7 separate regions of the Homo sapiens genome follow, and all the other regions are linked to region 1. Evidence: fine-mapped expression QTL. A gene starts in region 1. Each other region holds a variant in brackets. All regions are shown on one strand. Distances are from middle to middle. Region 1 holds the start of ZNF772 (zinc finger protein 772). Region 2 holds the start of VN1R1 (vomeronasal 1 receptor 1). Region 3 overlaps ZSCAN1 (zinc finger and SCAN domain containing 1). Region 4 overlaps ZSCAN4 (zinc finger and SCAN domain containing 4). Region 5 overlaps ZNF773 (zinc finger protein 773). Region 6 has its middle 7.1 kb from the start of ZNF548. Region 7 overlaps ZNF749 (zinc finger protein 749).

Region 1 (4,067 bases):
GCTCTAGATGTAGTAGAACACTTGCCTGACAGATTGTCTCCACTAATGAACTGGTGTTAACCTCTGCCATAAACATCTGTGACCAATGTTCTTTTTATCTCAAAACAAATTATATATACTTTTCCCTTTTGCCTTTGAAAGCTTCTCCTTGTTTCAAGCTCTCTGGATATGCCTATAGTCCCTATAGCCTGCATGTCCTGGATTTGCAAATCCCCTGTGCATTCCTGAATGAACTCAACATCTTTGAAGAATCTCTGTTATTTAGGTTGACAGTTTAAATATATCCTACATTGTGCTTTTCTTTGCCTCACTTCTTCCACTTATTTTACTATTATTTTACCTTTCTATTGATTATTTATTTATATTCCAAACATTTCCTCTTCTAGTTTGAAAAGTATATACGCTGACTGTATTTATTATATTTAGGCTAAAAATTACAAACGTTTAACACATTAGCGTGCCATACAGGATTGTAATACATTTGCTTTCCACTTGGAAATATAAAAAATTTAAAACTTTGAGCAACTAGCCTCCTTTCAATTTATATGTAGTTGAGGTTACGCACGGGAATTCCATCATTCTAACTCAATAAGTATATCTACTTATGTTTTACACTGTAATATGCTGTTATTTTAATCAAAAGATGCACTTCTTTTCATCTTCATTTCTTCTCTCATTGCAGACTTTTCACCTGAGATCAACTTTCTTTGGCCTTGAGTATTATTTTAAACATTATTTTTTGTGTAAATGTATTTCCATTACATTTATCATTTTTGGTTTCAAATAGTTTTATATCACACTTCCATAAAAGACATTTTGTTGTGTATAGACATCTAGTTTGGTGGTTATTTCTTCTTTACAGAAAGTGTTCATGTTGCCCTTTTCATTGCCATATGACATTTGATGAATTCTGTCTTTTCAGACACTTGTAAAACACTTAAAATATTGAATACATCTCTGTATATGGAGTATGAAATACTATCTTGAACAAGAGTATTACTTGTTGGGTTTGACACAATCACTGCTGTATAAGCAGGATAAATATTTTCTGAGGTAACAGACAGAAGGGTTATTCACTTACTTCAAGGCCACCAAACATCCCCACTCCACGTTCCACATCATGGTGTCTGGAGTCTTTTCTTTCTTGTGCCTGACAGAAAATGCTGAGGCTCGCCAAACTAACTCTGGAGCATCAGGCTACACGCATTTGAAAACAATATTTGTTAACTTCCAGCCATAGAAATCTGAGTGACGTCAGTGTATGGTGTGTCCATTTTATTTTTTGATGAGCATTCTCTGCGTAAGGAAGGCTGAAATCATGTCTCTAAACATTCCTTTGATGTCAAACACGACGTTCACCAGAAATACAGATATGGCTCCTTCAAGAGGAAGCTAAGCTCCGTCTGGGCCTTGGAGACGAGGGACACCATTTCCACGCGCCCCTGGCGGTCTTCTCTGGGCTTTTAACCTGGAGGTGAAGCGAGACGCCGCTTACTAGTGTTGGTGCCGTGGGAACTACATTACCCAGGAAACTTGGCGGCTCTGGGCCAATGAAAACCCAGGAAATAGGCGTTTCCGTTGGTCCTCACCAACGTCAGGGCGGGACTTCCTCTACCATCCTCGGGTGGACATTTTGTTTGCTTTTCCATTAATCCACTGGTTTAGTTTCCAGAACGCAATGTCAGACCTGAGGTGACAGAAAAGGGAAAACGTGAGAGAGTGTCTTCTTCCCTGAAGAGAGGTGGGCCTGAGGCTTGACAGTGGCGCTGCCTGAGTGACCTAGCCGCTGGGCTGGGCCCTGGACAGCTGATCCCAGGTTCCTGCACTTGTCGCCACCCTTCCGTAGTCCACAGGCCTGATGGCGGCGGCTGAGCCGATGGGCCCGGCACAGGTGGGTGCTGCGTCTGCGAGTCTGCGCGCTGACCCCCATCTCTGAATCCCAAAGCTTCGAATGAACGATTCCTCGGGTTACTGCAGCTCAGGCCCCTGTATCTAGAACAGTGGGGGCGCTCGTGTTTGGGACCCATTTTGACAGCACGAGTTGAAGGACGTTCCAGGCAGAGAGACCAGTGTATGCAAAGGCTCAGAGATGGTTCACAGCTGGAGCATTTGGGAAAACTGGGCCTTTAGTGTCTGAAAGGATCAGAGCGCTTTATAAGTGATTGCACCTGGAATATCATCCTGAGCAGCTGGGTCTCTATTCTGAGGGTGATGGGAGCCATGGAAGGTTCTGAACAGAGGAGAGCCAGAATCCGAGGGTTTAAAAAGTATTCCATAGACTGCTCATGGAGGGCAGACTCTTGTTGGCCATGGGGGCGGATAATGAGCACTGTTCCGAGCTAACACAGTTAAGAGGTATCCTTGAAGATGGAAGCACAGAGGGTAGACATTCAGCTCCCAGGCACATTGTAACTGGGTAGGAATATGGGATGGGGTTGAGCCTTTGGGGTTCCTTCAAGATTGCTTGACTCGCATAGTCTCCCTCTTCCCCACAGGTTCCCATGAACTCAGAAGTAATTGTGGACCCTATACAGGTGAGGGGAGAATGTCCATGCTCTCACCGATCCCACCCCCACCCAATACGCTCTCCAGCATTGTGGTGTTATATAGAACACTCTCCTGCTACTCTCCGATCTCTTGGGTCTGAGGACTCTGGAGAAGCCCCAAGCCCAGGGTCCTGACTCCGGGCCAGGGGTTTTATGGAGGGGTTTCCATTTCTGCCAACCATTGGAATAAGGTTGGAAGGTTGTTCCAGGCACAGGAACCAGCCTGTGCAAAATACTTAGAGGTGAGACTGAGAAGGGAGTTTTCAAGAAATTGCAGGTCTCTGTCATGTCTGGTGGGAACCAAGAGCAAGGGGGCGGGAATCATCCTGAAATGGCTTAAAGATGATTATGTAGATTGGGAGTTAAAAGAGAATATTCATTTCACAGTGGTAGTGCATTTAGTGAGCCAGGAAAGTGATGGTGGAGAGCCAGAGTTGTGAGATAACTGTGATCCAAAGAGTGATGTACATATGGAAAGAAGTGTAGACTGATGACGTCTGGGCTTAAAGGAGAAAGGCAAGCCCATCTTTGGTTGTCTGGTAAGCATGATGTTAGTGACCCCAGAGGAATTTGCTTACAGAAGGGTGAGGCCCTGTATGCTAAGCACAGAGCTTAGAGGGTGACAACTTCTTCACCTGCCTGTGGTTGCTATGGGTAGACACAGTGATCCATTGGGACCATGAGGCGAGAGAAGACACCAATGACATCTGGTCCTGATATTTCCTGAGTTGAGGAGTTAGGTAGGAGGGTGTACAGGAGGGAGATGTGTGGGGGCACGGATGGGGGTTCTTGGGAGAGATGCTGCTCATGGACTTGGCTCTCCTGATTGTGGCAGGGGCAGGTGAACTTTGAGGACGTGTTCGTGTACTTCTCCCAGGAGGAGTGGGTGCTCCTTGATGAGGCTCAGAGGCTCCTGTACCGTGATGTGATGCTGGAGAACTTTGCACTTATGGCCTCTCTGGGTAAGGCCGTCACATCCACCCCAGTGACTTGGACTGGGTCCTGCCCTTCCCCTTTTTTTCAGGGCATCTTTGTCCTTCCTACATCAGAGCCGTGGACACTGTCTCATTTCTTAGTGCCTGGAGTAGGTTCTGTGAGTGCTGGGCTTGGGCTGTTTGCACTCCTACTTTCTCCTTTTGAGCATTCCCAGCGCTTGCTGTCTCAGAGCCTTGCAGGCATGGATTCAGGAGTTATGCATTGTATTGTCAGCCCAGTGGGTCATATCCATCTTGTCCTTTCCCTGTCTGAATTCCTCTGTCTGTATCCATGACACCTCTGTGCCTGGGATTCTGCGCTCTTCCTTTAGCTGACATTTCCTGTGGCCTGCCTATGTCAGGAATTGTAGGGACCATTATGGTCGCTACTTGCTAGGACCACTGCACTATTCCTGCAAGACCTTACTCTGAGATTATTTTAATAATATTTAGTTTTCTATATGGGTTACCCAGACCAGTGCTGTTCTATCTTTCCCTTAGGACATACATCTTTCATGTCCCACATAGTTGCCTCACTGGTGATGGG
Region 2 (4,067 bases), 22 kb after region 1:
TTACCAATTGTATTGTAGCGTTTTTTTAATTTCTTTTTTTTTTTTTTTTGAGACAGAGTCTCGCTCTGTCGCCCAGGCTGGAGGGCAATGGTTTGATTTCAGCTCACTGCAACCTCTGCCTCCCAGGTTCAAGCGATTCTCCTGCCTCAGCCTCCCGAGTAGCTGGGACTAGCACGCGCCGCCATGCCCGGCTAATTTTTGTATTATTAGTATTTTGTATTATTAGTAGAGACAGGGTTTCACCATGTTGGCCAGGATGGTCTCCATCTTGGCCTCCCGAAGTGCTGGAATTACAGGTGTGAGCCACTGCACCCGGCCTAAAATTTGTTTCAATGCATCAATAACAATGGTGTTTACTAAAATATTAGTGTGGAAAAGGTTTTATGGTGTATTATTTTTGCTTTTCATATCTCCAGGCTACTTAATTGAAGGTTTTATTGAAATAAGTGTAGACTCACAAGCAGTCATAAGAAATAATACAGAAAAAGCCCTGTCCATATTACCCAGGGTTCCGTCATGATTACATTTTGCAAACTATAGTATAATATCACTCTAATGATATTGACTCTTCTGTGTTCTGTTTTTATATATTTCCCTAGTTTTGCTTGTATTTACTTGTTGCATGTGTGTAAGCCCTGAGTTTTATAGGTTTGATTTGTGGATCTGTTGTGCGGTTGAGCCCTCATTCATTCACCTGCTTCTCTGCAGTTGGACACACAAGCAATTGCCTTTGCACGAACAGGGACAATCTTAATTTCTGTTTAAGATGAGAAAATATGGTTGGAGACACATTAAAACTTCTGTCTCCACTGATGACAAGATACTTCTTTCTGCTTTTTTATTCTACTGATTCTTCAGACCTCAATGAAAATCAACATCCCCTAGATTTTGATGAAATGGCTTTTGGAAAAGTAAAATCAGGGATTAGCTTCCTCATTCAGACTGGAGTTGGGATCCTGGGAAATTCCTTTCTCCTTTGTTTTTATAACTTAATTTTGTTCACTGGACACAAGCTGAGACCCACGGACTTGATTCTCAGCCAACTGGCCTTGGCTAACTCCATGGTCCTTTTCTTTAAAGGGATACCTCAGACAATGGCAGCTTTTGGATTGAAATATTTGCTGAATGACACTGGATGTAAGTTTGTCTTTTATTATCACAGGGTGGGCACAAGAGTTTCCCTCAGCACCATCTGCCTTCTCAATGGATTCCAAGCCATTAAGCTCAACCCCAGTATATGCAGGTGGATGGAGATCAAGATTAGATCCCCAAGGTTTATTGACTTCTGTTGTCTCCTCTGCTGGGCCCCCCATGTCTTGATGAATGCATCTGTTCTTCTATTAGTGAATGGCCCACTGAATAGCAAAAACAGTAGTGCAAAAAACAATTATGGATACTGTTCTTACAAAGCATCAAAGAGATTTAGCTCATTACATGCAGTCTTATATTTTTCCCCTGATTTTATGAGTTTGGGCTTCATGGTCTGGGCCAGTGGCTCCATGGTCTTCTTCCTCTACAGACACAAGCAGCAAGTCCAACACAATCACAGCAACAGACTCTCCTGCAGACCTTCCCAGGAAGCCAGAGCCACACACACCATCATGGTCCTGGTGAGCTCCTTTTTTGTTTTCTATTCAGTCCATAGTTTTCTGACAATTTGGACAACTGTAGTTGCAAACCCAGGCCAGTGGATAGTGACCAACTCTGTGTTGGTCGCCTCATGTTTCCCAGCACGCAGCCCTTTTGTCCTCATCATGAGTGATACTCATATCTCTCAGTTCTGTTTTGCCTGCAGGACAAGGAAAACACTCTTTCCTAATCTGGTTGTCATGCCATGAGTCTTTTCTCTTCATGGAATTCAGCTATTTATCATAACTCTTGCTAAGATTTAGGAAATATTAACTACTAGTTATTTGTGATAGCAACATACACATGGCCAGTAATGCTCTTGTCCAGGAAGATCTAATACCAGAGCTAAAAATGAAAGTCATGGATACTGTTACACAAAGAACACTCTATATAACTGTGTTAAGTCCTTCAGACAAGTTCAGGAAATCAAAAAGTTTAAAAAGGGAATTCTTTAGAGATTTAGGGGAGATTTCTCATTTTTGTACTATGAAGAATCATGGAATGTTTTAAAAATATTTTTAAAGCACAGTTTGATTCAG[G/T]TGCTTCTTGAACAGCATAAATCCCCTGGAGAGTCCACATGTAAGAAAGACATGTGCAGGCCGGGCACAGTGGCTCACGCCTGTAATCCCACCGTTTTGGGAGGCTGAGGCACTCCCAAATGCCTCAAGTGATCCACTCAAGATGACTTGAGGCCAGGAGTTCGAGACCAGCCTGGCCAACATGGCAAAAACCCTGTCTCAAATACAAAAATTAGCCAACCATGTGGCACACACCTGTAGTCCCAGCTACTCCAGAGGGTGAAGCACGAGAATTACTTACCAGCTTGGGTGACGGAGGGAGACTCAAAATAAAAATAAAAATAACTAAAAGTGGCTGGGCACCGTGGGTCACGCCGGTAACCCCAGCACTTTGAGAGGCTGAGGTGGGCAGATCACTTGAAGTCAGGAGTTCAAGACCAGCCTGGCCAACATGGTGAAACCCCATCTCTATTAAAAATACAAAAATTAGCCAGACATGGTGGCAGGTGCCTGTAATCCCAGCTACTCAGGAGACTGAGGCAGGAGAATCCTTGAACCCAGTAGGCAGAGGTTGCAGTGAGTCGAGATCCCACCACTGCACTCCAGCCTGGGAGACAGGGCAAGACGCCGTCTCAAAAAAAAAAAAAAAAAAGAAAGAAAGAAAGTGCTTCTGCACTCCAGCCTGGACAATAGAGCAAGACTATCTAAAAAAAAAAAAATTAAAAATCAATATCAAAATAAATGAGTATTCTCATAAGCAAGACAAGCCTAAAGAAATGTGAGTACTAACTGTAATGTGGTTACATTTAGAGACACATGAAAAAAAATAAATAAAAGAATAAAAAATAATAAAATAAATGCAATGTGGTATCCTAGGTGGAATTCTGGAACAGAACATGTATTTTGGTAAAAACTGAGGAAATCTCAATCAAAGATGTACTTTAGTTTAATAATGTATCAAAACTGTTTCACTAATTGTAAATAATGCTGTATACTAATATATGACTATATATTAGTAACAACTAGGTGTGCTTGTAAATGAGATATCTCTGTACTATATTTGCAATTTCTCTGTACATCTTAAAATGTTCTAAAATTAAAACTCTATTAAAATAGAAAAATAAGATTTTTTTTTAAAAAAAGGGAAAAGATTTAGAAATTTGGCCAAATATACAGATAACAAATAAGCATATAAAAACTTATTCAGCATCATTAATTATTAGAGAAATGCAAATTTAAAAACCACACTGACCACAACACATCTATGAAAATGGTTAATCTTTAAAATACACCATAACCATCATGGACAAGGAGGTATAACAAATGCAATTCTGCTAAATATATTCATATAAACACTTGTATATGAATGTTCATGGGTCTTTGTTAGTTTTTTAGTCCAACACTAGAAACAATCAAAATATTTATTAATAGATTAATAAATTGTGGTATATTCAATGCAATACTCTTCATCAACAAAAAATGAATACGCTTAACATGTATAAATATCAAAAAATGCTCCATATGAATGTAATGTAGGATTTCATTTGTATAAGATACTAGAAAATTTATAGGCCGGGCATGGTGGCTCACGCCTGTAATCCCAACACTTTGGGAGGCCAAGGCAGGTGGATCACTTGAGGTCAGGCGTTCGAGACCAGCCTGGCCAACATGGAGAAACCCCCGTCTCTACTAAAAATACAAAATTAGCCAGGCGTGGTGGCGCATGCCTGTAATCCTAGCTACTCAGGAGGCTGAGGCAGGAGAATCGCTTGAACCCAGAAGGTGGAGGTTGCGGTGAGCTGAGATCGTGCCATTGCACTCCAGCCTGGGCAACAAGAGTGAAATTCTGAGAAAGAGAAAGAAGAGAAGAGAGGAGAGGAGAGGAGGAGGAGAGGAGGAGAGGAGAGGAGAAGAGAAGGA
Region 3 (4,067 bases), 580 kb before region 1:
AGGCGGATGTGACGTGGGTAAGTCCAAAGGCTTTTGATTTAGAAGGCGACTTGGAAAAATGTCTCTGCCTGTGCGGATTCACAGTCAGCCCAACACTGTGTTTCCAAGTGAAGTCGGGAGGAGAAAAAGAAAAAGGCAAAAACTTTTAAGGCTTTTGCTTGAAAGGGGACGAGTGTCCGACAACAATGAGTTGGGGACGGGTGAGAAGCCGAGTCCGAGGCTGGCTCCCCGCTGTGACGTCACCGCCTGCCCACACTCTGCTCCAGCCTAGCAGGAGAGGCGGGCCCACTCTTTGGAGACCATCTGATCCTTCCTGGCAGACCAGAAAGCCAGATTTTTATGGTTTAAACAAATGTTGGCATCTATCTAAAAAAAAAATCCTTCTGTAAGTCAAACAAAATACAGGCAGGTCAGTTTTGGTCAGGCCTAAAGACTGCGCCTGAAATCCTCAGAGACAGGAAGCAGATTCTGGTTGTCAGGGCGGGCAGGAATGGCGAAGGCGTGCTGAGGACTGTGGGCTCTCTTTCTGGGCAAGACGAAAACATCTTTGGAGCTAGAGAGTGCTGGTAGTTGCACAGTGTTGTGAATGTGCTTAATGCCACTGAACTGTTCATTTTTAATGACTGAAATGGTAAATTTTATGTTGCATGTACTTTACCCAAAAAAGGAAAAAAACAAAACCCTGTTTATCTGTTAGGTTCCAAGGGGGCTAAGCTGGCAGGAGGGCAGCCGGGGTCAGCTGTACCCTTCTCTGGAGTTGGAGCTGCCCAGGCCGGCTCCCACCCTCATGGCCTCAGGGATATCCACAGTGAAATGAAAACCCAGCGGCAGAAGCTGCCGCTGAGTCAGGTGCTAACAGGGAGACCTGGACAAGGCTTCTGAAAGATGGGACGCGAATGAAACTCCTCTTCAAGCCACTTGCAAAACTATAGTGCGCAGGACTGACCAGGCTGTGCTGTGGAACTGCTGCTTCTCAGCTGAGACCCTGGGAAGCCCCATCCCGTGCTTGGCTTCGGAGCAGGTGTCCAGGGTCTTCCGAGAAACAGCTTGTGTCCTTCAAGAGGAGTCCCAAGGTGGCCAGGGGTTGGTGGGGCTGGGGGATGTCCCCCATCTTCTGGGGCCCATCAGCTCCCCCCAGGGACTCAGGGCCGGGTGGCCGAGGCCCGAGGCTGGCCATTCACATGTGGCCGTGGGCCGTGTGGAGCTTCTGGTGGTCAATGAGGTGGACCATCCAGGGGAAGGCCTTCCCGCAGACGCTACACTGGAAGGGTCTTTTGGGGCTGCGAGGGGCCACTGGGCCCTGGGCTCCATCCCTGGGTGGGACGGACTCCCGGGGGCCCTTGCTCCGGGGGGCTTTCTTCCTCGGTGGCTCCAGCAGGTGGATCTTGCCATGCTCAGTGAGGACGGAGTTGTGCAGGAAGACCTTGCCACACTCGGGGCACGGAAAGGGCCCTTCCTCGCGATGGGTCTTCTGGTGCTCGATGAAGTGGGTGACCCAGGTGAAGACCATCCCACAGTCGGCACACTGGAAGGGCCGCCCACCTCGGGGCCCACGCGGCACTACCGAGATGCCTGCAACAGCCTCTTGGGTACCACCTTTGGTGTGCTTGAGGGATGGCTGGTGGCGGCCGCTCTGGTCAGTGTTCCTGTTTCTCCTTCGGGGACTGATTCTCTGAGCACTTGGACCCTTGGGGCTCGAGATCACAGTCCCTTCTGCCCGCAGGTCTGAGGAGGGCCCTGCGAGAAGGTCCTCAGGCTCGTCCCAGATACTCGGCTTCAGAGGCAAGCGGGCCCGGGACCCTGTGGAGGGCGAGGGAGATGGGTCACCTGTAGTGAGTGGATGGCCTTGGCATCTCCCTGTGCTCCCCAGGGGCACGGAGGACCCCAGTGACTGAGCCAAGT[C/T]CAGGCCCTTCCTCTGCTCAATACGGCCCCTGTGTCCTCCGTTCTGTCCTTTAAGATACAAGGGCACATGTGGCCGGTGCAGTGGCTCATGCCTGTAATCCCAGCACTTTGGGAGGCCGAGGAAGGTGGATCATGAGGTGAGGAGTTAGACACCAGCCTGACCAACATGGTGAAACCCCGTCTCTACTAAAATACAAAAATTAGCTGGGCGTGGTGGTGTGCGCCTGTAATCCCAGCTACTCAGGAGGGTGAGGCAGGAGAATCGCTTGAACCCAGGAGGCGGAGGTTGCAATGAGCCAAGATCACACCACTGCACTCCAGCCTGGGCAACAGAGCAAGACTCTGTCTCGAAAAAAAAAAAAAAAGGCACATGTTTTGGGAGCAGATCCCACAGCACTGGCCCTTGTTCCTACCTGGCTGGCCCTCTGGGTAACCCCGTGCTCCAACACTCTCAGACTGTCTGCCTTGGCTGCCGTTCAGGTGCGGAGGCTGAGGCCCTTCTCGTAGGGTGAACGATGTACATGGTGGTTCTAGGGGCCCCAGATCTCAGTCCTCACAGGAGGTGTGCATGCTTTCTGGGGGAAGTGTGGAGTTCACCACCGAAGCACCCAACTCAACCCATTAACAAAGTCTGTGGCTTTGGGTTGAAGTCCCAAACTCCATTTCCAACCCTTAATCCACACAGGAGCCAGACTCACCCAGCAAGCCAGGGGCGCGGGGCGCTTCGGCCTCCGCCCTGGTGTGCAGACTCTGCTGGAGCTGGGTAGTCTCCAGCCACTCACTTTCCTCGGGGAGTGCTGGGGCTGCTGCCACTGCATCCAGAATCAGCTCAGACGCCTAGAATGGCAAGCACAGGACTGTTCGGCAGCTGCCCCTCAGGAGCCATCCTCCCCACCACCACCGAACAACCAAGGAACGGGCGTCATCCCCAAAGGCTCTGTCCCAGGGCAGTGCGCGGTGTCGCGCCTGTTGTTCCCGTGCTTTGGGATGCTGATGCTGGAGGATTGCTTGAGGCCAGGAGTTTGGGACCAGCCTGGGCAACACAGCAAGACTCTGCTTATACAAAAAATAAATAACCACTCCTAAAGAGCTCTTAACAGGACCTGAGACAGAATTCGAGGGGCCCCTGTACAAAATGGAAATGCAAATCCCCTTGTTCAAAGATCGTTGATCATTTCAGGACAGTGACAACAGAGCATTAGATGGAGCCAGGGGACCTGTGCCACAGCTCGGGTCACTGTTACAAGCTGGGGCTCCTAACTCCCGTCCCCCAAGGCTGCACTGTCCTTGCCCACAAGCCCAGAGGAAGTGGGCGACTTCACAGACTTCACATCCCACCTGCGACCTATGACCTCTGATGCACCTAACCGTGTCCCGCCCAAAGCGGGGATCACCACTTCCTGGGAGGAGACTGAGCTGTGGTTGAAGAGCAAGAATTCGAAACAGAGGGGCTTGGCTTGGTGTCCAGGCTCCAGCCCTGCTTGTTGTGTGGCCCTGGATGAGGAGCTTTAGCTCTCTGGGTTTCCAGTGAGGATGTGGGTGCTACGTGCCCAGAGCCTGGTACCATCAAGGGCTCGGCAAACTGCAACGGAGTCGTGTCAAAGGAAAACACAGTGACACTTATCAATGCAAATCAGGTTGTTGGAGGAGGTATGTTGAGTCAAACAAAGCATCAGAAAAGACCAGGAGTCAAGCACGCACTGACAAGGTCTGTCTTGAGTGGGTCTTCGCTTTCTGCTGCCCCAACCCTACCTGGATGCACAGGGGCCTAAGGAAGCTGTCCAAGATTCCCAATAGCTGGGCAAAACTGGAGTAGAGGGATTGCTGGGCTAGAGACGGAGGAGGGAGGGAGGGAGGGAGGGAGCTGATGGCAGGAAGGGAGTTAAGGCACAAGATTCTTCCTGCTCTCACGTTGGGAGTATGTGGATGGTGTGTTTGGCTGGGTTATTGATTTTTATTTCTTATCAAATGCTAGTTTTGATTGTAAAACATGTTGAATTCTGAAATCGTAACCAGAGGAGCCACCATCTATAGGAGTAAAGGCGGGACTCCCTTTTACGCCTCTTCCTGGTACCTGGCTACTGGGGGCCATTGTGGACAGTCAGGCTCTTCCCTACTTCACCCACCTTGGCGTCTGTGACTAATCAAGGGCAGCAGAGGGGCTG
Region 4 (4,067 bases), 200 kb before region 1:
CTGTAGTTTGAATATGATGTACCTAGTTGTAGGTTTTTGGTATTTACACTGCTTCCTCTTCTCTGAGATTTCTGGATCTGTGGTTTGGTGTCTATGATTAATTTTGGACCTCCAAGTGGAGGTTGCAGTGAGCCAAGATCACACCACGGCACTCCAGTCTGAGCGACAGATCAAGACTCTGACTCAGAAAAAAAAAAAAAAGCCGGGCACGGTCACTCACGCTTGTAATCCCAGCACTTTGGGAGGCCGAACCACTGCGGCCGGCCCCATCTCTTTTTTTAAAAAAGGATATCAACATTATGGATTCATTCATTTATTCAACAGAAATTTATTGGTTCTTGGAAATGTTCCACTTTCCCAACCACTTGGAATACTTTAGTGAACAAAACTGACAAATTCCATGCTCTCCTTAGCCTTACATTTTAATGAAGCAAGACAATAAATTGAAAGCATAATCAGGAGATTATATCTTATATCCTAAGTAGATAAATACTATAGGAATATACATACTTGCATACATATTTATACACATTATCAGACCAGCAGCTTAGGAAGCTTCTGGTGTGGAGGGAACACTTGGCAGGGTAATTTTCTCATGAGTCCTCATATGGCGGTGGTATGTGGATGACTGGCGGTAGCTTGTCTTACAAAAGGGACATGTATAAGGCTTTTCTCCTGTGTGGATTCTCTCATGAGACCGCAGGTTGGTTTTGTGGCTGAAGGACTTTTTACACATGCTGCATGTGAAAGGCTTCTTTCCTGTGTGAATTATCTGATGCACCCGTAGGTCTGATATCTGGAAGAAGCCTTTTTGACACTCGGGACAAACAAATGGCCTCTCATTCCTGTGTCTTCTCTGGTGAGCTAATAAGTGACAGAGATACTTAAAGACCTTGGGGCATTCTTCACATTTGTATGATTTTTGGACTCCATGGGATCCTTTCTGATGTACCTCACATGTGGAATTTCCCTCATTGCTCTGGTGGGTAAGGGCAGACTCAGGGGAGGACTGCTCTGGTTGAGAGATACACCCTGCTCCCATCACCATAGGGACACCTTGGAAAGTGATTCCATTTATGGACCCTTCCTGAGATCTAGCAGTGACTAGCTCTGCTCTTTTTGAGTTGTATGGGTTGTCAGAAGAAACACCTCCCTCTTCAGGCCTAGGACCGTTCTCTTCCTGGATGATGATTAGGGAAACTATTTGATTGCCTTGATTAGTAATATTTTCATTTACTCGAGTAGTTTTCGAAGAACTGTTCCAGCCATCTTGTTCATCTTCATATCCTGTGAAAATAGACACTCAATGAAGTTGTACTTAAGAAGGGGTCCACATAGAACACTCCTCAGTTGTGCAGATTCACCTGACTTACCTTGTCCTGTTTCTAAGGAAGTATCTTGGGAAGTCTGGGAGGGTGTCCCCATGTTTGCTTCTCTTGTGGTTTGGGCATTCACTTGTTTTGTGAGATGAACAATGACATCTCTTAAGGGCATATCCTCAGAAAAGAGAGCTTCCTGTCCCTGCATGTGGACGTGGACCTGTAAAGAAAGCCAGATCACTGTTGTATCTGAATCTGTTGTGTAACAGAAGACTTTTTGGAAAAGTGGTCCTTAACAGGCTCTCACAAGCTCCCTCAAGTATTGGCTATCACATATTTTGTCCACCATCTCTGATGGTGTTATTCTTGTTACTACAAGCTCTTATGTTTAATAAAGTCACATGGACATTGAATTTACAAGTACTGAATCATTTCCCCTAGGAAAAATTCAGGGTTAGTTTCCTGTGAGCTTCTGGCTACATTATTTTTGTCAACTGATCAATACATGAGTTTGTTTTATGTGTGTATATGTTCAAAGACACCCCATTTAATATATATTATTGATTAATCCTGAACTCAGAGGATCCAACACATGTATTATCTCCATAATACATAGCAACTTTCCTGCACTTAGGAAGACTAGACAGTGTTTCAGCATTTTACTTCAGTGTCACTTTAAACAACAAAGTTATCAATAAAAAGCAAAAAAAAAA[AT/T]GTGCCACTAAATAGACTGTGAAAAGGACACTTATTTACACTGTAGGAACCAAAATAGGAAGTGAGGTTGTGGCCTTGTTCAACCTCACCTGGAAACATGCACCTAAGGTAAATCAAATATTTTACCACCTGCACATATCTGAAAATGACGGAGAAGATGCCTCAGGTATTTATTTTAAGCTTACAAATAAATTTTAGCAATTTTGCAAATATGGGCTCTGAGAATAAGGATCTACCGTAATTGCTTCTTTAGAATGTCTTTCTTGATTAGAGTTCCCTGACAGAAGAACAAGCTCTTGTCAAGACATTTCTTCCTCAACCTTGATGTCTTCATTTAAATGTCAATTTCAGGCTGGTCTCACACCTGTAATCCTAGCACTTTGGGAGGCCAAGGCAGGCGGATCACTTGAGGCCAGGAGTTCGAGACCGCCTGGCCAACATGGTGGAACGCTGTCTCTATTAAAAATACAAAAATTAGCCGGCCTTGGTGGAGCACGCCTGTAATCCCAGCTACTCTGGAGGCTGAGCCACGAGAATGACTTGTGCCTGGGAGGCATAGGTTGCAGTGAGCTGATATCATGCCAAAAAGTCAATTTCTCAGAGTCTGCCATTATGCAGACTAAAATTAAGTTAATCAAACATCAATATGTTTGGCTCCTATATGTCCTACAGAATAAACAGATATATACCTTTTTGCTTTTTTTCTTGAGAACTTAGGACATTGAAGATTATTCTTTGTGAGAATGGTGGGAGAGTGTGAGCTGACTAATAACTGGACCTCCAATAGCTTCTCTAACTTCCAGACAACTCTAACTGACTGTGATTTATTCCTTACTTTCCTTTGTCTCTCATCCCAGAAGTTAGAACCCTGTACTCACTAAGGCAGGTGGATTTATGCTGTCATCAGTCAGGTCTTCTATGAATCTCTCCAAGTTTTTGCCACTTGATTTCCATTTCTCTTTCACACTGGCTTTGTCATTGCAGTGGCCACCAATCATAAACTGCTCCAGGACTAATAGAGAAATAATTTCATCCTTGCTGTGCTTTTCTGGTTGCAGCCATGAGTGAAAGATCCTATAAAGTCTTTGCAATTCCTGCCTTGCATATGAATTATTGCTGTCTTGAAATGAATTGAGCACCATTCTTGAGAACTCAGAAATCCCTTCTTCTCTCTGAACAGCAGGTCCTTGGCTTTGTTGAAACGCTGAATTTTCTGATCCAAGATTATTCTCGGATGGTTCACACTGAAATATGGTTCTTAGATCTAAAGCCATTCTTAGCAATAATTCTCAGAGAGACTTTACTTTGATGATTCAGTCTCTTGCCTTGTGTCTCTAGGGATTTGTTTCAACAGTTGGTGGATTCTTTAAAACTGCAAGCTAGAAATAGAAAAGAGATGAGTAATTAATTGCACCACTGGCATAATTAAAGACAAATCAACCAAAAAGTTAGGCCTACATGGCTCTATGGATGAATTCAAAGAAATAATTATAACTTAACATAAACTCTCCCAGAGCATATAAGAGGAAGCACTACCCACTTTAGTTACTGAGGTCAGCACTTCCTGATAACAAAATTTTACAAATACATTAAAATTATCCAAAACAAAATATTTGAAAATAAAATCTACTCACATATACATCGCAAATGGTGTTCATTTCCAAAATGCAGGAAGTTTGGGTTAAAATTCAAAAATCAATGCAATTTACTTCGTTAACGGGATATGGATACAAGAACATAATAAAATCATCTCAATGAATGCATTTAAAATGTTTAAATGCCAATGTTTATTCCTGAAAAAGGCACTTAATAAACTAGAACTATTAGGAAATATCCTTGGCTGGGCACAGTGGCTCACTCCTATAATCCCAGAACTGTGGGAGGCCGAGGAGGGCGGATCACTTGAGGTCAGGAGTTCGAGACTAGCCTGGCCAACATGGTGAGGCACCATCTCTACTAAAAATACAAAACTTGCCGGGTGTGGTTGCTCATGCCTGTAATCCCAACACTTTGGGAGGCTGAGGCAGGTGGATC
Region 5 (4,067 bases), 29 kb before region 1:
TTGCCAGCTCCCTCATAAAGATCACCCTCAGAGTTTCTGGGTTTTTTTTGTTTTTTTTTTTTTTTTTTGAGACGAAGTCTCACTCTGTCACCCAAGCTGGAGTGCAGTGGCGTGATCTCGGCTCAATGCAACCTCCGCCTCCCGGGTTCAAGCAAATCTCCTGCCTCAGCCCCCCAAGTAGCTGGGACTACAGTTGCCTGCCACCACGCCGGGCTAATTTTTTTTTTTTTTTTTTTTAGACAGAGTCTCACTCTGTCACCCAGTCTGGAGTGCAGTGGCGTGATCTCAGCTCACCGCAAACTCTGCCTCCTAGGTTCATGCCATTCTTCTGCCTCAGCCTCCTGAGTAGCTGGGACTACAGGCGCCCACCACCATGCCCAGTAAATTTTTGTATTTTTAGTAGAGATGTGGTTTCATTGTGTTAACCAGGATGGTTTCGATGTCCTGACCTTGTGATCCGCCCGCTTCAGCCTCCCAAAGTGGTGAGAATAACAGGTGTCAGCCACCACGCCTGGCTGTTTCTGCTTTAAGTCAGGTCATATTGATTCAGCGACAGTCTAAGGCCTTTCTCCAGTCTAAACTTTCTGGTGTTGAATACGGTTAGGCCTTTGGCTGAGGCCTTTTACCATATTCACTACATTGTCCACTCTGTGAACTGTCCAGTGTTGAATGAGTTTGGAGGTATAGCTAATGGATTTCCATTAGTAACCTTCAAGACTTTTTTACACTGTGAACTTTCTGGTGTTGAATGAGGTTGAAACACCAGCTAAAGGATTTCTCACAATCATTGTATTTCTCCAGTGTGAATCCTTCGATGTTTAACAAGACTGGAGCTGTGGCGAAAAAATTTCCCACATTCCCTGCACTCATAAGGCTTTGCTCCAGTGTGAACCCTCTGATGTTTAACAAGGCTGGAATTCTCACTAAAGAATCTCCCACATTCATTGCACTTAAAAGGTTTTTCTCCAGTGTGAACTTTTCGATGTTGCATGAGGCTTGAGCTTTGGCTAAAAAATTTCCCACATTCACTGCACTCATAAGGCCTTTCTCCAGTGTGAACACGCCAATGATTGATAAGGCTGGACTTGTGGCTATAGAATTTTCCACATTCACTGCACTTATAAGGTCTTTCTCCAGTGTGAACTCTCTGATGTTTCATGAGGCTGGAGTTGAAACTAAACAATTTTCCACATTCACTGCACTCATAAGGCCTTACTCCAGTGTGGATTCTGTGATGCTGAACAAGTGTGGAATTATGCCTGAAAGCTTTTCCACATTCACTGCATGTAAAAGGCTTTTCTCCAGTGTGAACTCTCTGGTGTTGAATGAGGTCAGCATTACGGCTAAAGGATTTTCCACAGTCACTACACCCATAAGGCCTTTCTCCAGTGTGAACTATTTGGTGTATAAAAAGGTTGGACTTATGGCTAAATAACTTCCCACATTCACTGCATTCATAAGGCTTTTCCCCAGTGTGCAGTCTCTGGTGCTGAACAAGTAAATATTTCTGACCAAAGGCTTTCCCACATTCACTGCATTTGTAATGCCTTTTTCCAGCATGAAAGGCCTCCCTACTTTTGGAGCTCCTATGTGACTTCTCTCCCGTGTGAGTCACCTGGTGCTTGAGAACACCTGAGCTGGTCAGAAGATCCTTCCCAACTTCCCTGCTTTGCAAGGACTTCTCTGATAGGTGGACTCTGCAACTCCTCAAAACTGGGACCCTGCCCTCTTGTCTTTTTAAGGGTTTCTCTCCACAGTGCTGCTTCTGGTGTTGCTGAACGTTTGAACTGGGCACTTCTACAGAAGCACTCTGCTCAGCAGCTGCCTCAGCCTTGGCTCCTTGCCAACTACCTGAAAGAAGAGAAATGTTGATGAAGTAAATGTAGTCTTTGGTGTGAGAAGGCAGCACTCTCACACGTGTCTGACACACCTGGTAATTAGCGTGTGGGACTGCTTGCAGAATGAGGGGGCTAGCGCTTGGTGGGGAAGGGCCTGCTGTGCAGTGCTGAACCTGGCTAGCTCACAGATTTGGGGAGGCCTCATGAGCACCAAGGATGCAAGGATGTGGTGTAGCACAAGGAGGAGAGGCAGAGTCCCCAACACAATCCTCTGCAAATGGCTTTCCACAGGGTTTTGGCTGCTGGAGACACAGGAACACGGCACAGAAGGTTATATCCAGGTCCAGAAAAAAACAACTGCAGGATGGGCGCGGTGCCTCATGCCTGTAATCCCAGCACTTTCGGAGGCCAAGGCGGGCAGATCACGAGGTCAGGAGATCGAGACCATTCAGGCTAACATGGTGAAACCCAGTCTCTACTAAAAATACAAAAAATTAGCCAGGCATGGTGGCGGGCGCCTGTAGTCCTGGCTACTAGGAGGCTGAGGCAGGAGAATGGCATCAACCTGATAGGCGGAGCTTGCAGTGAGCCGAGATCACGCCACTGCCCTCCAGCCTAGGCGACAGAGCAAGACTCTGTCAAAAAAAAAAAAAAAA[AAC/C]AACTGGAATGAAATAGTTGGTGTCCAAGGACTATGCAAGAATAAGCGCCCCACCTCACCACACATTCAGTGAAAGCCACTGCTGAAAGGTGCTGCTGAGGATGGGGTGAAACATGGAGTACAGAGAGGTGGGGAATGGCCCTGGGTCAACTATCAGAATAGATATAAATGGGTGACTGAGGAAGAAAAGATAGAAATCAGCGACGACACCTTGCCTTGGTATCAAAATATCTGGGCCCACTGGAAAGACTCCTGGTATGATACAAACCCATACCCGAGTTCATACCTCCCTGAGCTCCACCCACCAAGTACCTCTCAGTATGGCTGAAGTCACAACTTCCCAAGCAGGCATGAAGGGCTCCTCCCATGACTCCAGCTGGGTTATTTCATGGGTCTTGGAAGATGCAAGTCCTAAGGAAAACGACAGGTGAGTGGCAGCACTGAGCCAGAATGACTTATCTCATCATGGACCACAGGAAAGAAAACAAAATAGTACAGAAAGAACCTTGGAGGAGGGTCTTGCAGGAACAACCCAGTCAAACAGCAATCACATTGGTGACTCAATTGCTGGCACAGACCGACACCCAGGTATGTTGGCTAGAGGAGACAGGCAGAATGTAGGGGAATAGAACTACCACAGATCTGCACAGTGTCACCAGGCCACAGAGAGGCCACCAGGGATAAGATCCATCAAGCTGACTGCAAGACTCCTGACCCCCAAACCCTTTCCTGCACAGCTGTGGGGCAGCTCAGGGAGAGAAGGTGGTAGTATACACAGCCCAGGCCTATTACAATAGCTACTTCAGGATACTGGAGAAGGAATGAGTGCCCACAGTTCAGCTTTGGGAAGAACAGACCTCTCCCTAGGAAAAGGAGGAAAAGCCAAGTCCAGCTCAGGATGCTGGGGTGGGGTGTGAGAACCTTACCCAGAGAGGCCAGAAGTGTAAAGTTCTCCAGCATCACATTGCGGTAGAGGAGCCTCTGAGCGTCATCAAGCAATCTCCATTCCTCCTGGGAGAAGTAGACAGCCACGTCCTCAAAGGTCACATAGCCCTGCTAAGATGGACAGAGTTGAGTTTATCTGCGGTCTCCTTACTGGGGAATTTAGGCATCCCCCTAAACATCCACCCCTGCTCACCCTCTTCCTTAATCCCCATCTCAGAAGAGAGACCCTGCCCCAGAACCACTGATGCCCACTCTCTCCTCATGTTCCCACTGAGCAAGCAGAGGCAGGTAGGCAGATAAAGTCCATCTCAGCTCTGGGCATGGTATGCAGAGTCCTACTCTTCTCTTGCCAGACAACTCACCTTGGATCCCCCAGATTGTGTTTCCCAAATACAATCAAATTTGTGTCAGTGTTCTCCCTGAAGCACCCAATACAAGGTCCCTGGGGACATCTGTTTACACTCATTAGAATGTGCACATACTCTGTACCACAACCACTGCCCCCTGCACCACCTTATGTGCCTCCCCTAGCGTCACCACATTCTAGTCTACACATGGCATCCAGAGGGCACTCACCAAATGCAATCAGAACTCCATCCCTTCCTAGACCTCCAATGGCACTGACT
Region 6 (4,067 bases), 94 kb after region 1:
ATGCTGCTGCCGATCTGACAGGAGGCGGAGATCAGGCAGCAATGCTCACTCATCTGCCACTCACCCTCTGCTATATGGCCCCATTCCTAACAGGCCATAGTACTCATCTGTGGCCCCAGGGGTTGGGGACCCCTGATTTAGAATGTATTTCAGATAAACAACAAATAATTTTATGATGAGTATGTCACATACAATATTTATCTTTTATCTCACTGCACATATACATAGGGAATTAGAAATAATTCAAATTTAACCAGGTCAAGTATCAGTTACAAAATTTGACAATTCTTTTCATCGTAATTTTTTTCTGAACCTATGCATTATATTGAGCATCCTCATTTTTGAACCTAGTAACTCATTCACAGAATTTCTGCTACCCTTCTTCTTTTTTCTTTTTTTCTTTTTTTTTTTTTGAGACAGAATCTTGCTCTGTCACCCAGGCTGGAGTGCATTGGCGCGATCTCAGCTCACTGCAACCTCTGCCTCCCGGCTTCAAGCGATTCTTCTGCCTCAGCCTCCTGAATAGCTGAGATTATAGGCGCCCGCCACCATGCCCGGCTAATTTTTTTTTTTGCCCTGTCGCCCAGGCTGGAGTGCAATGGCATGATCTCAGCCCACTGCAACCCCCTCTTCCCGGGTTAAAGCAATTCTCCTGCCTCAGCCTCCCGAGTAGCTGTGATTACAGGCACGCACCACCACGCACAGCTAATTTTTTGTATCTTTAGTAGAGATAGGGTTTCACCATGTTGGCCAGGCTGGTCTCGAACTCCTGACCTTATGATCTGCCTGCCTCGGCCTCCCAAAGTGCTGGGATTACAGGCTTGAGCCACTGTGTCTGGCCACTTCTTCTTAATTGTAAATTCTGCTGGTTGGGGGCCCTTTGTTCCAAGGAAGGAGAGGTTCCACCAGAAGTAAATATTATTACATTTAATTGAAGGGTGATACAGCTACTTGTTCATCTGGGGATCCTTGTGTCACTTAAGCAAGAAGGGATTGCTTTTTTGCTTTGGATGAGTTAGGCTGAGTTGCTGCCATGGAATGGGAAGCATAGAGAGTTATGTCTGAGACCAGGGGATTTCTGGGGGATGTTTTGGTAAGTTCATGTTCAGAAATAAAACTAGCAACTCATCGAAGGGAGGACTTCTAAGAATCAGAAGTTTAGGTTTTGATATTTGGGGACATCCTCCAGGTTAAAAAACAAACAAAACCAAAATGCTACCCAGCTGAAGATCCGGCAGAGGCAGAAGAATGGGATGGTGGGGGGAGGGGGGAGCGGGGAGGAGAATGAAAAATCAATTTTCAACCTAAGACCAGTTAAGAAAACAAGAAATCTCAATATTATAGCTATCTTCCTTGTTTACATGTAAGAAATTGACTATAGAAATCAACAATGGCCAAGCCAAATATAAAACAGAACTCTAACCCACTACTGCACTGACCAGCTCAGGAAGCCAACCTGCTATCTACACTAACCAGATGAGGAAATCTCTCTCCCTCTCTCTCTCTCTCTCTCTCTCTCTCTCACTCAAGAGTTTTAAGAGGACAGATTTATCTCAGGTCTAAAATTCTGCCTTCTTTTGTAGTGCATTACCTGATATCATTGGTTTTGGGGGGTACCAGAGATTACTTTGTCCTGTGAAAGAACTTGACGTTTTTGTGCGTAATGGCTGTCACAAGCAAGAGCTGCAGTGTCAGAAGCAGCTGGTGGCAGTTGTTTACAGTAAATGGTTATTACGACAGGAGGCTACTCATTTCTTTGCATGTTTAGATATAAAAGGCATGCTCTAAACACTTACAAAAATGTCTTTACATCAACGTGCTCTATCAAAGTATTGTGCAGCCCAGTGCCATGATGTTTACTATGTGTTTTTTGTGAAGAAGCTTATATTTAAAAAATGAAGATGTGGTTTTTGCTAAAGAAAAAGTAATTCTGGGCCGGGCGTGGTGGCTCACGCCTGTAATCCCAGCACTTTGGGAGGCCAAGGCAGGCAGATCATCTGAGGTCAGGAGTTCGAGACCAGCCTGGCCAACTTGGTGAAAACCCGTCTCTACTAAAAAAAAATACAAAAATTAGCCAGGCGTGATGGTAGGTGCCTTAATCCCAGTTACCTGGGAGACAGAGGCAGGAGAATTGTTTGAACCCGGGAGGCAGAGGTTACAGTGAGCCAAGATCGGGCCATTGCACTCAAGCCTGAGGAACAAGAGTGAGACTTCTCTCAAAAAAAAAAAAAAAAA[AG/G]AAAGAAAGAAAAAAAAAGGAATTCTGTCTAGTTTAGGGGTTATGTAAAGGTCGTTTCAAAATGAAAGGAAAATAATGTAGATAAAAGTAAATAGATCTAGGACTGGGCGTAGTGGCTCAAGCCTATAATTTCAGAACTTTGGGAGGCTGAGGTGGGTGAATCACTTGAGGCCAGGAGTTTGAAACCAGCCTGGCCAACATGGAGAAACCTCATCTCTACTAATACAAAAATTAGCCGGACATGGTGGTGTGTGCCTGTAATCCCAGCTATGTGGGGGGCTGAGGCACGAGAATCACTTGAACCTGGGAGGTGGAGGTTGCAGTGAGCCAAGATCAAACCACTGCACTCCAGTATGGGTGACAGAGTGAGATTCTGTCTCAAACAAAGGTAAATAGATCTAAAAATTGGGGAAAGAGAAAAATAGAAAAAAATTTGTAAGAAGGTATAAAAGGTTTACGGAAAAATCTTACCTTGTGTGGTCAAAACCTGATTAAAATTGGATGGATTTGTTTATAAGACTTTATTCAAATTAGCTTTAGTATTGACAATACACAAATATAAAAATAGAATTTCGGCTGGGCGCAGTGGCTCATGCCTGTAATCCTGGCACTTTGGGATGCTAAGGCGGGCAGATCACAAGGTCAGGAGATTGAGACAATCATGGCTAATATGGTGAAACCCCATATCTACTAAAATATAAAAAATTAGCCGGGCGTGGTTGTGCGCACCTGTAGTCCCAGCTACTCAGGAGGCTGAGGCAGGGGAATTGCTTGAACCCAGGAGGCTGAGGTTGCAGTGAGCCGAGATCACATCACTGCACTCCAGCCTGGGCAACAGAGCAAGACTCTGTCTCAAAAAAAAAAAAAAAAAAAAGCTGGGTGCGGTGGCTCCACCTCTAATCCAAGCACTTTGGGAGGTGGAGGCAGAGGCGGGCGGATCACGAGGTCAGGAGTTTGAGACCAGTCTGGCCAACATGGTGAAACCCCGTCTCTACTAAAAATACAAAAATTAGCCAGGCAAGGTGGTGCACACCTGTAATCCCAGCAACTCAGGGGGCTGTGGCAGGAGAACCACTTGAACCCGGGAGGCAGAGGTTGAAGTGAGCCAAGATCGCACCATTGCACTCTGGCCTGGGCAACAGAGTGAGACTCCATCTCAAAAAAAAAAAAAAAAAAAGTAGAAGTTCATTTTCTATTTTGAACACAATTTACATATATTAATAAGAGATAATAAAGTTTTTTCTTTAACTTTTGAATAATCCTCAATTTAAAAATGGGTGGAGGATGAAAAACCTTTGATTCCTTAGTGGCCAAATGGCCATACATGGTATGGAACTGTGGCTGTCTGTGCTCAGTTACTAAAGGTAAGAGTTACCATGGAAATTTAGAGATGGATCCAGCTCCCAGGGAGTTGGTACACTGGATGCATAAGAAAATGCAAACTAATATGCAAAAAGCAAAATATTCAATCTCTGGTTCACTGGATGCATAAGAAAATGCAAGCTAATAAGCAAAAAGCAAATTACTCAATCCTTTGTTATCTATAACAGCTAAAAAAAAAAAAATTAGAGAGTGCTGGGTCCAAACTTGATGCTAGATCAAGCTTAGATTTCAGTCCATCTGAACGAAAGCCACCAGCCAGCCTAAAAGCCACCTCCCACCAAGGGCAGAATCATTTAGGGACAACAGAAAATGCCTCTGAGACCTACGGCTACCAAGAAGGTAGTCATTGTGGGGAAGAACAAAACCAAGTAACTATTCAAACCAGAGAGTATAATGTGAAGAACTTGTTTTACTTTATAGATTGAAGTAGTCAGTTTCCTGAGGAACC
Region 7 (4,067 bases), 32 kb after region 1:
ATTAATTTAGAGTAGCCTAAGTGTACAATGTTTATAACATCTACAATAGGGTACAGTAATGTCCTAGAGCTTCACATTCACTCACAACTCACTCCCTGACTCAACCAGAGGGGTCCCGCAAGCTTCGTTCATGTTAGTGCCCTATAAAGTTTTTACCATTTTTCATACATTTTTACAGTACCTTTTGGAAACTTAGATATGTTTAGATACACATTTACTTATCATTGTGTTTCAATTACCTACAATATTCAATACTGTAACATGCTGTTAAGGTTTATATCTGAGGCGCAATGGACCATATCATATAGCCTAGGTGCGTAATAGGCTGTGCCCTTCAGGTTTGTGTAAGTACACTCTTTGTTCACACAATGACAAAATCACCTTAAGATGATTACTCAGAACACAGTCCTCTTGTTAGGCGACACATGACTACAATGGGATTTTATTCGGCCTTTAAAAAAGATGAAAATCATAAGCTATGCTACAACATGGATAAACCTTGAAGACATTTAGGGAAATAAGCCTCAAAATAAGTCACAAAAGACTAAAACTTAAGTTTCCTCATATGAGATATTTATAGTAAAATTCATACAGTAGTATTGTCAGGGGCTGGTTGGCGTAGGGAATGAGGAAGAGGAGTAGTTTAAAGCAGCGGTCCCCAACCTCTTTGGCACCAGGGACTGGTTTCATGGAAGCCAATTTTTCCACGCATCAGGGACAGAGGAGGGGGCAGACAGTTTCAGAATAAAACTGTCCCACCTCAGATCATCAGGTATTAGTTAGATTCTCATAAGGAGCACACAACCTAGATCCCTCACAGGCACAGTTCACAATAGGGCTCAGGCTGCTATGAGAATCTAATGCTGCTCATCTGACAGGAGGTGAAGCTCAGGTAGTGATGCTGGCCCGGTTCCTAACAGGCCACAGACTGGTACCAGTTTGCAGCCTGGGGGTTGTGGACCCCTGGTTTAAAGGGTATAATGTTTTAGTTTCATTAAGTTGAAAAAACTTCTGGATATTAATTGACAACAATGCGAATGACTTAACACTACTGAACAGTACAGTTAAATATGGGTTAAGATGGTAGATTTTAAGTTACCTGTAATTTGCCACAATTATAATTTTTTTCTTTTTGAGACAGAGTCTCGCCCTGTCACCCAGGCTGGAGTGCAATGGAACAATCTCAGTTCACTGCAACCTCCGCCTCCCAGGTTCAAGTGATGCTCCCTGCCTCAGTCCCCTGAATAGCTGGGATTACAGGCACCTGCCACCATGCCCAGCTAATTTTTGTATTTTTAGTAGAGATGGGGCTTCACCATGTTGGCCCGGCTGGTCTCAAACTCCTGACCTCAGGTGATCCACCCACCTCTGCCTCCCAAAGTGCTGGGATTACAGGCGTGAGCCACCACGCCTGGACATAAATGTTTTTAATGTAGTTCCCAGCAGGAAATCCTCGCAGATTTCCATCTGAACTCTTTCAACATTAGATTTACATATATTAATAGGTTCTTGGTCCGATGTGAACCTTTTGGTGCTGAATGAGGTGACAGTTTTGGTGACTTTCCTGCATTCACTCCACTAAGGCCTTTTTCCAGTATGAATT[A/C]TCTGATGTTTAATGAGGCTGGAGTTGTATTTAAACACTTTGCTGGATTCACCACACTCATAAGACCTTTCTCCAGTGTGAGTTTTTTGGCGCTGACCAGTATTACATTTGTTGAAGTCTTTCCCACATTCCCTTAACTTAAAAGGACTTTCTCCAGTGTGAGACTGCTGATGTATAATAAGGCTCGATTTAGTCCTAAACAATTCCCTACATTTACTGCACTCATGAGGCTTCTCCCCAGTGCAAACTTTATGATGTTTAATGAATGTAGAGCGGTATCTAAGAAACTTCCCACAGTTGCTGCATTCATAAGGCTTTTCTCCAGTATGAACTCTCTGATGAATAATGAGTTTGTAGCTATCTCTAAAAAATTTCCCACATTCACTACACTCATAAGGTCTTTCTCCAGTGTGAACTTTCTGATGTCTACTCAGTGTACAGCGATATCTAAAGAATTTCCCACATTTGCTGCATTTATAAGGCTTTTCTCCAGTGTGAATTCTCTGATGAATAACAAGTTTGTAGCTGTCCAAAAAGAATTTCCCACATTCATTGCATTCATAACGCCGTTCTCCAGTCTGGATTTTCTGGTGACCATCTAGATGAGCCTGTGTAAGGAAGGCCTTCCCACATTCACTACACACATAAGGCCTTGGCCTGAGGTCAATCCTCTTGTGTTGAATGAGGTCAGACCTTTTTGAAAATGCATCAGTGTGGATTTTCTCATGCTGAACTAGGTGGGACTTTCTAACAAAGGCCTTCGCACATTGAGTGCATTCATAAGGCCGTTCTCCAGTATGGATTTTCTGGTGACCAACCAGATGAGCCTGTGTAAGGAAGGCCTTCCCACATTCACTGCATGTATAAGGCCTTGGCCTAATGTCAATCCTCTTGTGTTGAATGAGGTCAGACCTTTTTGAAAATGCATCAGTGTGGATTTTCTGGTGCTGAACTAGGTGGGACTTTCTAACAAAGGCCTTCTCACATTCAGTGCACTCATAAGGCCGTTCTCCAGTATGAATTTTCAGATGCTGAACAACATTATGTTTGAGGCTAAAGGCTTTCCCACATTCGCTACACTTATAAAGCCTTTTGCCAGCATGAACTCTCTGGTGCATATTGAGTGTGGAGCGGTGACTAAAGAATTTTCCACATATGCTGCATTCAAAAGGCCTTTCTCCAGTATGAACTCTCTGATGTCTACCGAGTGTGAAGCTGTCCATAAACAATTTCCCACATTCACTGCACTCGTAACGCCTCTCCCCAGTGTGAACTTTCTGATGTCTGATGAGTTTGGAGTTATACATAAAAAACTTCCCACACTTGTTGCATTCATAGGGCTGTTCTCCAGTATGGGTTTTCTGGTGACCAACCAGATGAGCCTGTGTAAGAAAGGCCTTCCCACACTGGGTGCATTCATAAGGTGTTGGTCTACTGAGAATCTCCTGATGTTCAATGGGGTCAGACCTTTTTGAAAGAAAGCCTTCACTGTGAATTTTCTGGTGCTGAACTAGGTTGGACTTTCTAATAAAGGTCTTTCCATATTCAGTGCCCTCATAAGGCCTTTCTCCAGCATGATTTTGCTGATATTTAATAAGGTTGGAGTTGTACCTAAACAATTCCCCACATTCACTGAACTCATAAGGCCTCTCCCCATTATGGGTTTTTTGGTGCTCAAACAGCCCATGTTGGTGGCAAAAGTCTTTCCCACCTTGGCTGGAGTTGAAATCATTCTGTTCACCTTGAAAGGCTTCCCCATCCTGGGTATCCCTGTACAGCTTCCACCCACTGTTTAAGACCTGTTGCTGGAGAAGGTCTGAGCTGGCAGTAAAATCCTTGCCACCCTGCGTGCATGTGAAGTTCCTCTCTCCCACGTGAGCACTGTGGTTCACAAATGAAGGCCTCCACTCATCACTTCTGGTGAGCTTCTCTCTAATCTGCTCCTTTTGGTGCAGGTCATGCTCTGCTGCACATGTGTACAGCCCTTGCTCAGGGTGTGTTCCATCGTGCTCAGCCAGGTGCAGAATGTCCTTCAGAATTGAGCTACACATCTTGCAGGGCTGGGCCTTCAGGGTGGACAAAGCTGGCTTTGGAATTGTGACCTGTAACACTCTTACAGAAACACACTGCTTGGAAGGTACCTCCTCATCCTTGGCTCCATGCCAACAACCTGTAAGAACAGAAATGCTGGTGAAGTGCACGTGAACTCCGGAGGGAGGAGACAGCCCCATCACAAATGTCTGTGAGACACACCCACAAATGAGGGCACAGGACTGGTCACAGGCAAGGAAATAAGGCCAGTGAGAGGAAGGCCCAGTGTTCAGAGGTGGGCCTGTGAAGTGTGTGTAGTGGGGGAATCCTGGTGGTAAGGACACAAGGGAGAAGTACCATGCAGGGAGGGCAGGTGGGGTCTCCAACTCACTCCTCTATAAATGGCTTTCAACAGGCCATGACGGTTGTGTCC

The links.
Region 2: its variant is fine-mapped to the expression of ZNF772 in whole blood (INTERVAL, PIP above 0.99).
Region 3: its variant is fine-mapped to the expression of ZNF772 in whole blood (INTERVAL, PIP above 0.99).
Region 4: its variant is fine-mapped to the expression of ZNF772 in whole blood (INTERVAL, PIP 0.98).
Region 5: its variant is fine-mapped to the expression of ZNF772 in naive CD4 T cells (Schmiedel 2018, PIP 0.95).
Region 6: its variant is fine-mapped to the expression of ZNF772 in whole blood (INTERVAL, PIP 0.98).
Region 7: its variant is fine-mapped to the expression of ZNF772 in whole blood (TOPMed, PIP above 0.99).

Annotation. Positions count from the first base shown.
Region 1 is chr19:57,475,101-57,479,167 of GRCh38, reverse strand. It overlaps ZNF772 (zinc finger protein 772), which reads left to right and starts at 1,602. Exons shown (of 4, transcript NM_001144068.2): 1 at 1,602-1,891; 2 at 2,496-2,534; 3 at 3,382-3,508. The coding sequence starts at 1,859. RefSeq lists enhancers at 1,088-2,287, 1,878-2,401.
Region 2 is chr19:57,453,196-57,457,262 of GRCh38, reverse strand. VN1R1 (vomeronasal 1 receptor 1) reads left to right here and starts at 123. Exons shown (of 1, transcript NM_020633.4): 1 at 123-2,473. The coding sequence starts at 777. The coding sequence ends at 1,838. The variant G/T (reference allele first, on the strand shown) is at 2,169.
Region 3 is chr19:58,051,162-58,055,228 of GRCh38, reverse strand. ZSCAN1 (zinc finger and SCAN domain containing 1) reads right to left here. Exons shown (of 6, transcript NM_182572.4): 5 at 2,601-2,739; 6 at 598-1,800. The coding sequence ends at 1,178. Among named protein-coding and RNA genes, the nearest start is that of ZNF135, 6.1 kb to the left of the region's middle. The variant C/T (reference allele first, on the strand shown) is at 1,903.
Region 4 is chr19:57,675,386-57,679,452 of GRCh38, reverse strand. It overlaps ZSCAN4 (zinc finger and SCAN domain containing 4), which reads right to left. Exons shown (of 5, transcript NM_152677.4): 3 at 2,912-3,412; 4 at 1,374-1,539; 5 at 301-1,287. The coding sequence starts at 3,307. The coding sequence ends at 548. Among named protein-coding and RNA genes, the nearest start is that of ZNF551, 4.6 kb to the left of the region's middle. The variant AT/T (reference allele first, on the strand shown) is at 2,033.
Region 5 is chr19:57,504,142-57,508,208 of GRCh38, reverse strand. It overlaps ZNF773 (zinc finger protein 773), which reads right to left. Exons shown (of 4, transcript NM_198542.3): 2 at 3,423-3,552; 3 at 2,809-2,907; 4 at 1-1,851. The coding sequence ends at 785. Among named protein-coding and RNA genes, the nearest start is that of ZNF773, 6.2 kb to the right of the region's middle. The variant AAC/C (reference allele first, on the strand shown) is at 2,495.
Region 6 is chr19:57,380,710-57,384,776 of GRCh38, reverse strand. No RefSeq gene overlaps it. Among named protein-coding and RNA genes, the nearest start is that of ZNF548, 7.1 kb to the left of the region's middle. The variant AG/G (reference allele first, on the strand shown) is at 2,236.
Region 7 is chr19:57,442,997-57,447,063 of GRCh38, reverse strand. ZNF749 (zinc finger protein 749) reads right to left here. Exons shown (of 3, transcript NM_001023561.4): 3 at 1-3,773. The coding sequence ends at 1,579. Among named protein-coding and RNA genes, the nearest start is that of ZNF749, 9.7 kb to the right of the region's middle. The variant A/C (reference allele first, on the strand shown) is at 1,604.